Linked DNA regions of Homo sapiens. The protein of the gene in region 1 interacts with the protein of each later gene in a pairwise test. Each region holds a gene or a part of one and is shown on either strand. Other genes may lie near its edges.

The links. The genes of interacting proteins can lie anywhere in the genome.
Region 2: the proteins of LAMP2 (region 1) and CETN3 interact in binary tests that used the Homo sapiens proteins (3 or more experiments, as listed by UniProt).

The regions. Positions count from the first base shown.
Region 1 is NC_000023.11:120,424,620-120,429,212, reverse strand, and holds the end of LAMP2 (lysosome-associated membrane glycoprotein 2 isoform A precursor), read left to right. Parts: 3' UTR 1-586; coding exon of another isoform or gene 587-729; 3' UTR 730-3,065; downstream 3,066-4,593. UniProt on the Homo sapiens protein: Lysosomal membrane glycoprotein which plays an important role in lysosome biogenesis, lysosomal pH regulation and autophagy.
Region 2 is NC_000005.10:90,399,757-90,404,140, forward strand, and holds part of CETN3 (centrin-3), read right to left. Parts: intron 1-4,384. UniProt on the Homo sapiens protein: Plays a fundamental role in microtubule-organizing center structure and function. As a component of the TREX-2 complex, involved in the export of mRNAs to the cytoplasm through the nuclear pores.

The DNA of each region.
Region 1 (4,593 bases):
GGCCACCGCTCAGCTAAAAATAATTGTGTGTGTGTGTATATATATATATATGTACACACACACACATATATATACACACACACATATATATACACATATACATATATATACACATATATATACACACACATATATATGTATATATATACTACATTCTTGATCCTAAGTCTTTTTTAACTTAAATTTTATTACTTATACAGAATTCTTATTTATACTTTAATTATAGGTGTGACGAAGAGAAAGAGAGTAGGGAAATACACAGGCAGTGGTTTTAAGTGTAGATGATGGCTCCTTAACCCAGTGTCATTAGATAATCAAACCTAAAGTCTTCCCATATTAGGCAAGCGCAATTCTCTATTTTGGACCCTTCCCATTCTTCCCTTACCTTCTGCTTTTCGTACTGAGGAATTTCGTGTGATTTTAGATAAAGTGATAATGAGATATTGAGCAAATAAGAAAATAGAGGTAATGCTATAAAAAACTAAGCTATGTACACTTTCAAAATGCATGTTTCTTGCATGCTTTTTACTACTTAATTGCATTCTTTGCTAATTTCCTTTCCTTGCTGTCTGTTCTTTTCTAACAGCTGAAGAATGTTCTGCTGACTCTGACCTCAACTTTCTTATTCCTGTTGCAGTGGGTGTGGCCTTGGGCTTCCTTATAATTGTTGTCTTTATCTCTTATATGATTGGAAGAAGGAAAAGTCGTACTGGTTATCAGTCTGTGTAATCAGTTAAATCTAGTGTTTGTTTGTTTTTTTCAATTAGAAGTTACGTTTCCATTGGCTAAAAGCCAGGACATGCTGTGCAATAGATTGTTTAAGATATGCAGACTAACTTCAGTGAGTTCCTAGCTAACTTGGGCATGAGTACACTTATTTAAGACAAAATATATTAGGACCAATTTTTTTCTGTTTTTTTTCTTCCTTTGTTAAAGTATAATTAAAAGAAAAATTGTGGCTTAGAATTTTTTAAGTAAATAATGATTTTAAGCCCCTGGATCCAATTATGAAAGCATTTTTGCTGATGTGTAATTTTATATGTTACAGTTACTTATATTTTACTACTTTGATGTTATTTGCAAAATCAAAGGTGTTAAAGAATTTAACTTGCTTCAGGAAATAAATTCAAGAACATAGTGGATTCATTTTCATTGGTGGCAGACACGAAATTTGGTTCATGATAAGACTTCCTTTCCCCACCTCCTGATCAGCATTATTTAAATCTGTATTTTTCTGTTAGTTAAGAAAGAAATGGCTTCATGATATTGTATTTAATAGCAAAAGTTTGGCTGTCTTCTTCATTACTGTTAATAGCTACTATATTTTAACAAGGAGATTTCTTTTTTTGTTGTTGTTGTTCTAGAGTTTGGAATATACTGATTATCTCAGACTTGACATTTATACTGAAGGATGAAGTAAGACCTCCAGCTTTTTTTAAAAAAGGTGTTGATTTGGAACACCTGTATGGGTTATGGTTTATTAAGGTTATGGTTTAGAAAGTTTTTTTCCCTCAGAGCCTTAACTTGTTAAGAAGGTTCATTTATCCTGCACTGAAAACAAAAACTCTATATACTTTGTTTGTGTGCCTCCTGCACTCTCCCATTCCCTATGTGAATATGCTCTAGTTGATATTTTTAATATATTGATTTCTTTTTTCTCACAGCAACAAGTGCTTACTCTAGAGGTTAGTGGGCCCTGATATGTCATCAGTCAGATGCCTGCCTAGCCAAAGCTGGACTAAGATTATTCTGTACATTTGTTGATCTTGATATAGACTTATATCCCTGTAGGGACTGCTAATGGCTCCGGCTTCTGGAGTAAGGTACTGGAGACCACTCATCCCTGTGTCTGCTTGATTGGTTCAGCTGTTGAATTGCCCTTTTATTTGGAAGCAGTGTTGAAGTTGTCTAGGGTTCAAATGGCTGCTTTGTACACCTGTCATTAGTATAAGGCAGATGTTTATTTTATCAAGCTATTTTATCTCTACATTTAACTAAAAACAAAAGTTCCCAAAGATCTGCCTTCACTTCAGAAATTTTTTTTGGATTAAAAAAATTAAGCCTGAACCTTAAATAAAGTGAGTTGGTTATTCATTCCAAGGATTAAGTCCCAATCTACCTCTCAGCACAATGCAGAAGCTCACCACTGTATTGCTGCCATTAACTCATGCCAGAACCCTTTGCCAATAACTGGAATTACAAATTTTTGTTAAAGAAAATTTATCAAGATCTTTCTTTACTGCCTTCTCTATATGTACATCTCAAAAACATGTACATCTCAAAAACTGGAGTAGAAAGTTAGATTGCTCAACTACAACTCCTCTAGAACTCTATAGCTCTGACATACAGATTCACACTCTCCTCTATTTGCTAAGTATGTAAAGAATGTTTTCTTTTAAAATGTTCTCTTTTGAGAACAACTGCTTATTTGTTATAAAAGCATTTGGTTAAAATGATGTCATCATAAAAAACAGTGGCTTTGTTTCAATACATATTTTTGAGATGATTATCTAGAAGCCAGATTAATAAAATCAGCTTGTGACCTTGCTAAGCATATAAACTGGAAATTCAGATACATTCAAAATTATGGGTTCATTTAAAAGTGTTCTACCTTTTGGGTATGAGACTAATATCACTAATTCCTCAATAGTTATCATGGCTCTATCTTAATTAATTAGAAAATATGTGTGTTTAATTCTTTGAGAATTAAAATAGAGAATATTAACAGAGGGTTAAAAACTGCTTCAACTCCAATAAGATAAAGGAAGCTCAAAATCTATGAGCTGAGTGTTCAATTAGCTTTGCCTACTGAGTTCAATTTTATGTCAATACAACAGTGGATCAGACAGTACGACTTTGAACTGGTGAATGTAAACAATTGTTTTTCACCTAAGCTGCTTTGGAAGAACTGATGCTTGCTGCTAACTAAAGTTTTGGATGTATCGATTTAGAGAACCAATTAATACCTGCAAAATAAAGCATACTGTGGTACTTCTGTTTGATCTAGTATGTGTGATTTTAGATTGATGGATTAAAAATTAATAAAGATCATACATTCCATACCACTATGGATAACCTCATTTTTATTCCATATGCTCAGCCTTAAGAGCTTAGACTTAATTGTATAATCTAAGTTTCTTGAATTCTAGTCTCTTGGATTGTCAACAGGAATCATAGGATCTCATAGATCTGCAACTTAACCAAGTCCCGTCATTAGGAAGGCACTAGTACAGAACCTTTAGTACAGACACCTCAAATAGGGGGACCTACTTAGTCATGGAAATTACAAGAAAACATCAAAAACAAAATATGGAAATCTAACAAATGTAAGAACATCATAACAAACGTACTTTCCGCGTATGTCTGTCTGCATTGATGAACTATACTAATTGTTGAAGTTCATTTCATTCTGAGTGAGATATACCTCAGGGATATGGTGGGGCAAGGGGAGGAGCTATCCATTTTGTGAATTTCCTTTAAATTCCTTACAATCTAGTCTAATGCTTAATTTTTATATAATTGGATAAAACAACAACACATACATAAACATACTCCTTTTTACATGAGAGGTATTTTTGGTGGGAGAAGGAATTAGACATTGGCTCCCTCCATAGTTCCAGAATAATAGGGTTTCATTTTCTGAAAGACGTTTAATAGCTTGTAATTAAGTCAAAAAATGGCCTTCATAACTGCCACCTCATGAGGCCTCTGAAAGAAGCACTTTAAGTTGACTGATAATTAGGAAGAGTGGTTCGATATATGTTGCTGTGAGGGTTACAGTGTATCTAAAAAGTCAACTTGGAGGGTCATCTTTTTAACTTCAATGTGTATACTTTTTGAATGCCAGAACTGCCTTTAGAATTCTGATGAAATGTTTTTCCTTTCCTTTGTTTTTACTGTCTGCATGTATTTTGATAGCAGTGTAAGTTTGGGTCCCTTTAATTTCAAGAGGTATGCATAATGAACAGGAGAAATCTTGCCATACAATGCATCTTTAGTAGGAAAAATCCATAATTTTATTGAGCAGTTACAGTGCTGTGCACTTTAAACACCTTATTTCATTTAATACACCAACTCTCTGAGGTTGGGGGTATCATTTCCAGTTTACATATGGGATAACTGAGGCTTGAGTTGGTTACTTAACCAAAGTCACACAGGATTAAGTGGCAAAATGGACATTTGAACCCAGTTCTGTTTGCCCGCCAAAGACCATGCAGTTAACCACTATACATCTGCCTTTTGCAGAAGCAATAGATTTTTTTAAAGCACATGCCTTACATTAAATGGTTACAGAAATCTGACTTCTGTACTCTTCTATCTTGTATGTAGTTGCCTTATAAATATTCTTCAATATTCTTAAAATAACTTGAGTTTTATCCAGCCCACTTGTGGGGCAGATGGATGTTGTGGCAGCATGCCTTTTGGAAGATCAAAACCAAGGCCAGTTTGCACTGTACCTCATCAGTAATATTAAGCCCGAATGTCACTTTTTTCAGGGTAGCCTCATCTAGTTATTCTGATCACATATCATTGTCATTCTGCTCTCAAACTCTTCTGTACCATGAATCATTTTGACTGTGCATTAGTGTGTTT
Region 2 (4,384 bases), on another chromosome or scaffold:
TCATGAGCAACTTGTCTTATTATAAAAGTAAGCAAAACTATATCACACAGAGGCAAAATAAAAAGGACTACATTTATACCATATTTATTTAAGATCTACTATTATCAAGAATTGTACTAGGCTCCACTGACATCAAGCACACAAGGAGTGTGTCATCTACCTGTGGAGAGACATACCAACAAAATAATTGGAGCTAACTAAATAAAAGCTGCTTGCTGACTAAACGTCATACTAACACTGATTCTTCCTCAAATTTAATCCAACTTCAAAACAAGAAAAACTGCAAGAGACAAAAAGTACTGCCATCGCAGACACAGGCACAATCTCAGACAGCATTTGAAAATTCCACTAATACCTTTGTGATTAGAAGAACCTCTTGGTTTTCCAAAATTTACAAAGTAGTAAATAGGATCAAATCTGACTATAGCAGGAAAGCCCACCCAAAAAAAACCTCTGCAAAGAAGGTCTCCTTAAAGCTTACCCATTTTGTTTGGATAAATCACTCTCAGACAACTAACTAAAAATAAATGTAGTTTCAAACCTCAATGGTAATTGTGTATTTTAATACACTAAATATAATCACATGTAATAACATAGTAATAAGCTTAAGTATTTTCAATTTTACCAGTCTTTAATCAATAGCCACAATAAAAATTAAAATAAAAATCTATGGCATAAAAATTGGTAAGTTACTAAATAAAATTCTAACAGTATCTAAATAAGTATCTCTGAAGTAATTATATACACTATCTGCCACTACAAGAAAAGGTATTTATGGCCTTTACTATGCTATTAAAAATAACTCGGTCCTGTTGAAGGTTACAGAATCATTAAAAAAAAAAAAAAAAGCAACTGCTTATAGATGGAAAATACTGGAATGTTTAAGGAACCCAGAATGAAAAAAATACAATCGAAGTCTCCAACAAGCTGTTGTTTTGCTGCTGTTTCACCCGTATTTGGTTCAATAATCACCTATTCAAATGACTATTATATCATCTACACATATTTTCAATAGTTTCCTTTTATCCATTAATTTTATCCAAAAAGGCTTCCAAGTAACTAATTGAAGTATATTACTGTAAGTATGCAAATCATCAAAGCTCATAAATATTCAGTCAAAAAGAAGCTGGCATATCTACAGCCATAACACCAAAATAAAATACCACACTTAACTCTATGGCACATACTCAACTTATTTTGAATTTAGTCCCAACAAAAAAGCAGGACAAGGAAAAAAAGTGTTAAGAAATTTTCTTCACCAATTAAATAATTTACATGACAGGTGAACCAAAAAAGCAGCTTGCTGAAAGTATTAATGTACTTAAAGAAGCAACAGGGTGATTGGGGAACAGATGGGGCTCCAAGATGTATAAATTCTTATCCCACTGGTACTTTAATTGTGTTAGTTATTTCAGAGCTATGTGTCTATATATTCTTTTATCAATATTCTTCCTTAAAATGCAGCTTTTCTTGGGAATTATAAATGCTCATCATTTTGGACAGCAAAAACATTACCTAATATATAACTTTATAATGACTCTCCTCCATGCCTTCAGGTTCTATTCTTGTTCCACAAAGTAGAATTTAATTATAAGGAATATATTTATTTTCAATGAAAATATTAGTAAACTGATATAGAGGCAGTTAAGGTGGGTTTCATTTATTTCACAAAACTCCAAATTTCTGTCCATGCAACTGTATTTTCAAATGATTTAATTACACATACTATCAGAAATGTACTTCATCAAAATACTTTCTTAGACCTTTAATGTGTAAAAATCACTTAAGAATACGGCAAATCCAAAAACATCACATCAAAAGTAAATTAAAAATTATTATAGGTAATGCTAGAAATACAGCTTTAACTGTATTTCTCAATGTCTTTCGGAAATTTCTATCCAAACATACCAGTTAGACATGTTGGACTCCAAACTCATTCCACTACCACCATAGTAACTGCAGCTGCCTCCCCTACCCCAACCAAAAGATAACAGCAACATTTACAGCTAGATTCCATATTTGAAAAGCATAAATCATTTTCAGTCCCACAAACTTAATCAGGTCCTATAGTACTGAGAATACTGTTTTTTTTCTAATTTATTTATTGTTTTAAAACAAGGTCTCGCTCTGTTGCCCAGGCTGGAGTGCAATGGCGTGATCCCAGCTTACTGCAGCCTCAACTCCTGGGCTCAAGCAATCTTCCCACCTCAACCTCCAAAGTAGCTGGGACTACAGGCATGTGCCATCATGTCTGGCTAATTTTTTAAAATTTTTTTGTAGAGACAGGATCTCACTTTGTTGCCCCAGCTGGTCTCAAACTCCTGTGAGCGAGCAATCCTCCCGCCTTGACCTCCCAAAGTGCTGGGATTACAGGCATGAGCCACCAAGCCCAGCCTCTTTTTTATTCTTAAATGTATTTTCTTTTCACCCTCGCCATCCTCAGCGAAAAAAATAGTATTTTCTGTCTGCAGTCTCTCTTCCTTCCAACTCATCATCAATAATACTCTCATCAGTTTTCTTTCTCAAACATATCATATCCCCTTCCCTTAAAAATTGTGAATGATCTCTGCTGACTAGAATTCAAAATCTTCATGTTTTGCAAGACTTTACCAATCTGGCCCAATCCTATGTTTCCAGTCATTTCCCTATGTCTAGCCCAGAACACTACCTAGTTTCCCAAACATGCTATCCGTCTAGTACCATTCTTTGTTGTTGCTGCTTTCTAAGCCTAGAATGCTTTTTCTCTACTCTTCCTGGCAATCTTGGAATGAAATCTTACTCACATTTCCAAAGGCCTAAATTTAAAATCTCCTCTGCAAAGACTTCAATTCCTCTAGATCAGGGATTAACAAATCTTTCCTGTAAAAGGCCAATAGTAAATATTTTAGGCTTTGTAGAGGGCCATAAAGTCTCTAACTACTCACTCTGCCATAGTAGCACAAAAGCTGCATAAAAGAAGGGGTGTGGTGGTGTACAAGCAGCAGCTGAATTTGGTCCAAAGGCTATAGTTGCTGACTTCTGTCCTAGACAAAATTACAATTTACCACATAGTACTATAGCCTGTTGTCACCTATATTTACATTGTAAACTCCCTGAAAGAAGAACCTTTTAGTAACTTTTAATTAAGTCTTCTTCCCAACCCCAGTACAGTACCTAATACCAAAAAATTCAGTGTTAAATAAGCAAAATGAAGACAATAATACAGTATTACAATCTCAATCAGCAATAATAAGTAGTACATGTCAAAAATAGTGTACAAACGTTTGACTTATGTTAGTCTTAAAGACACTAATTCCTAAAATATCTATGTTACTCACTAGCCTCAGGCTGTCTTGACTCTAAACTTAAATTAAATATATTTTAAAGCTTTTTTCCAGTACTAGGAAGAGTCTATAATAGTTAACTGCCAAACTTCATCCAGATATATCTGTGGAACAGTGTCCTTGGGTAGTTCATAAAACTAGGACTCAAATGTTATGATTTAGAATCATCTGTCCCAAAGTATAAAACATATTAATCTGTGGTCAGTGATTAGTTAAAAATAATCAACAAAAGGGGTAATACATAGTTCCTGAATGATTCCCAAACAGTAATACATTTTTATTTGACACCTGGTACTCTCCATAGGTAGCCTTAAGATAGCTAAGATACATGTTGACCCTGTCAAAAGGTTAATCTTTTAGTGTCAAAGCTGAAGTTTAGCCACATCTATTTATTCTAGAAGGAACCCAGTATTTCTGCTCTGTTAATAACATAGAACAGATGGGGTGTCAGGAAAAAGTGGAGGTGGCATGGGATTCTGGTCCCAACTGCCAATAAAAATCACAATTTTTGGCCGGGCGCGGTGGCTCACGCCTGTAATCCCAGCACTTTGGGAGGCCGAGGCGGGCGGATCACGAGGTCAGGAGATCGAGACCATCCCGGCTAAAACGGTGAAACCCCGTCTCTACTAAAAATACAAAAAATTAGCCGGGCGTAGTGGCGGGCGCCTGTAGTCCCAGCTACTTGGGAGGCTGAGGCAGGAGAATGGCGTGAACCCGGGAGGCGGAGCTTGCAGTGAGCCGAGATCCCGCCACTGCACTCCAGCCTGGGCGACAGAGCGAGACTCTGTCTCAAAAGAAAAAAAAAAAAAAAAAAAAAAAAATCACAATTTTTAAATTGTGTTCATTTAAGGTGAAATAACATATTTTGTAAAATTATTAGTGATGATACAGTGCTTACAATAGCCTTTATGAAAAAAGTCAATAAAAAATATACACAAAGTCTATTTTATGTCCCAGTGATGCATATATGATTATTTCGAGCCCCTGAAACAAAGACAATTTTTTAAAGTAATAATAATAGCAAATGCTTAGTAGCACTTACAACATGCTAGGCCCTTTTC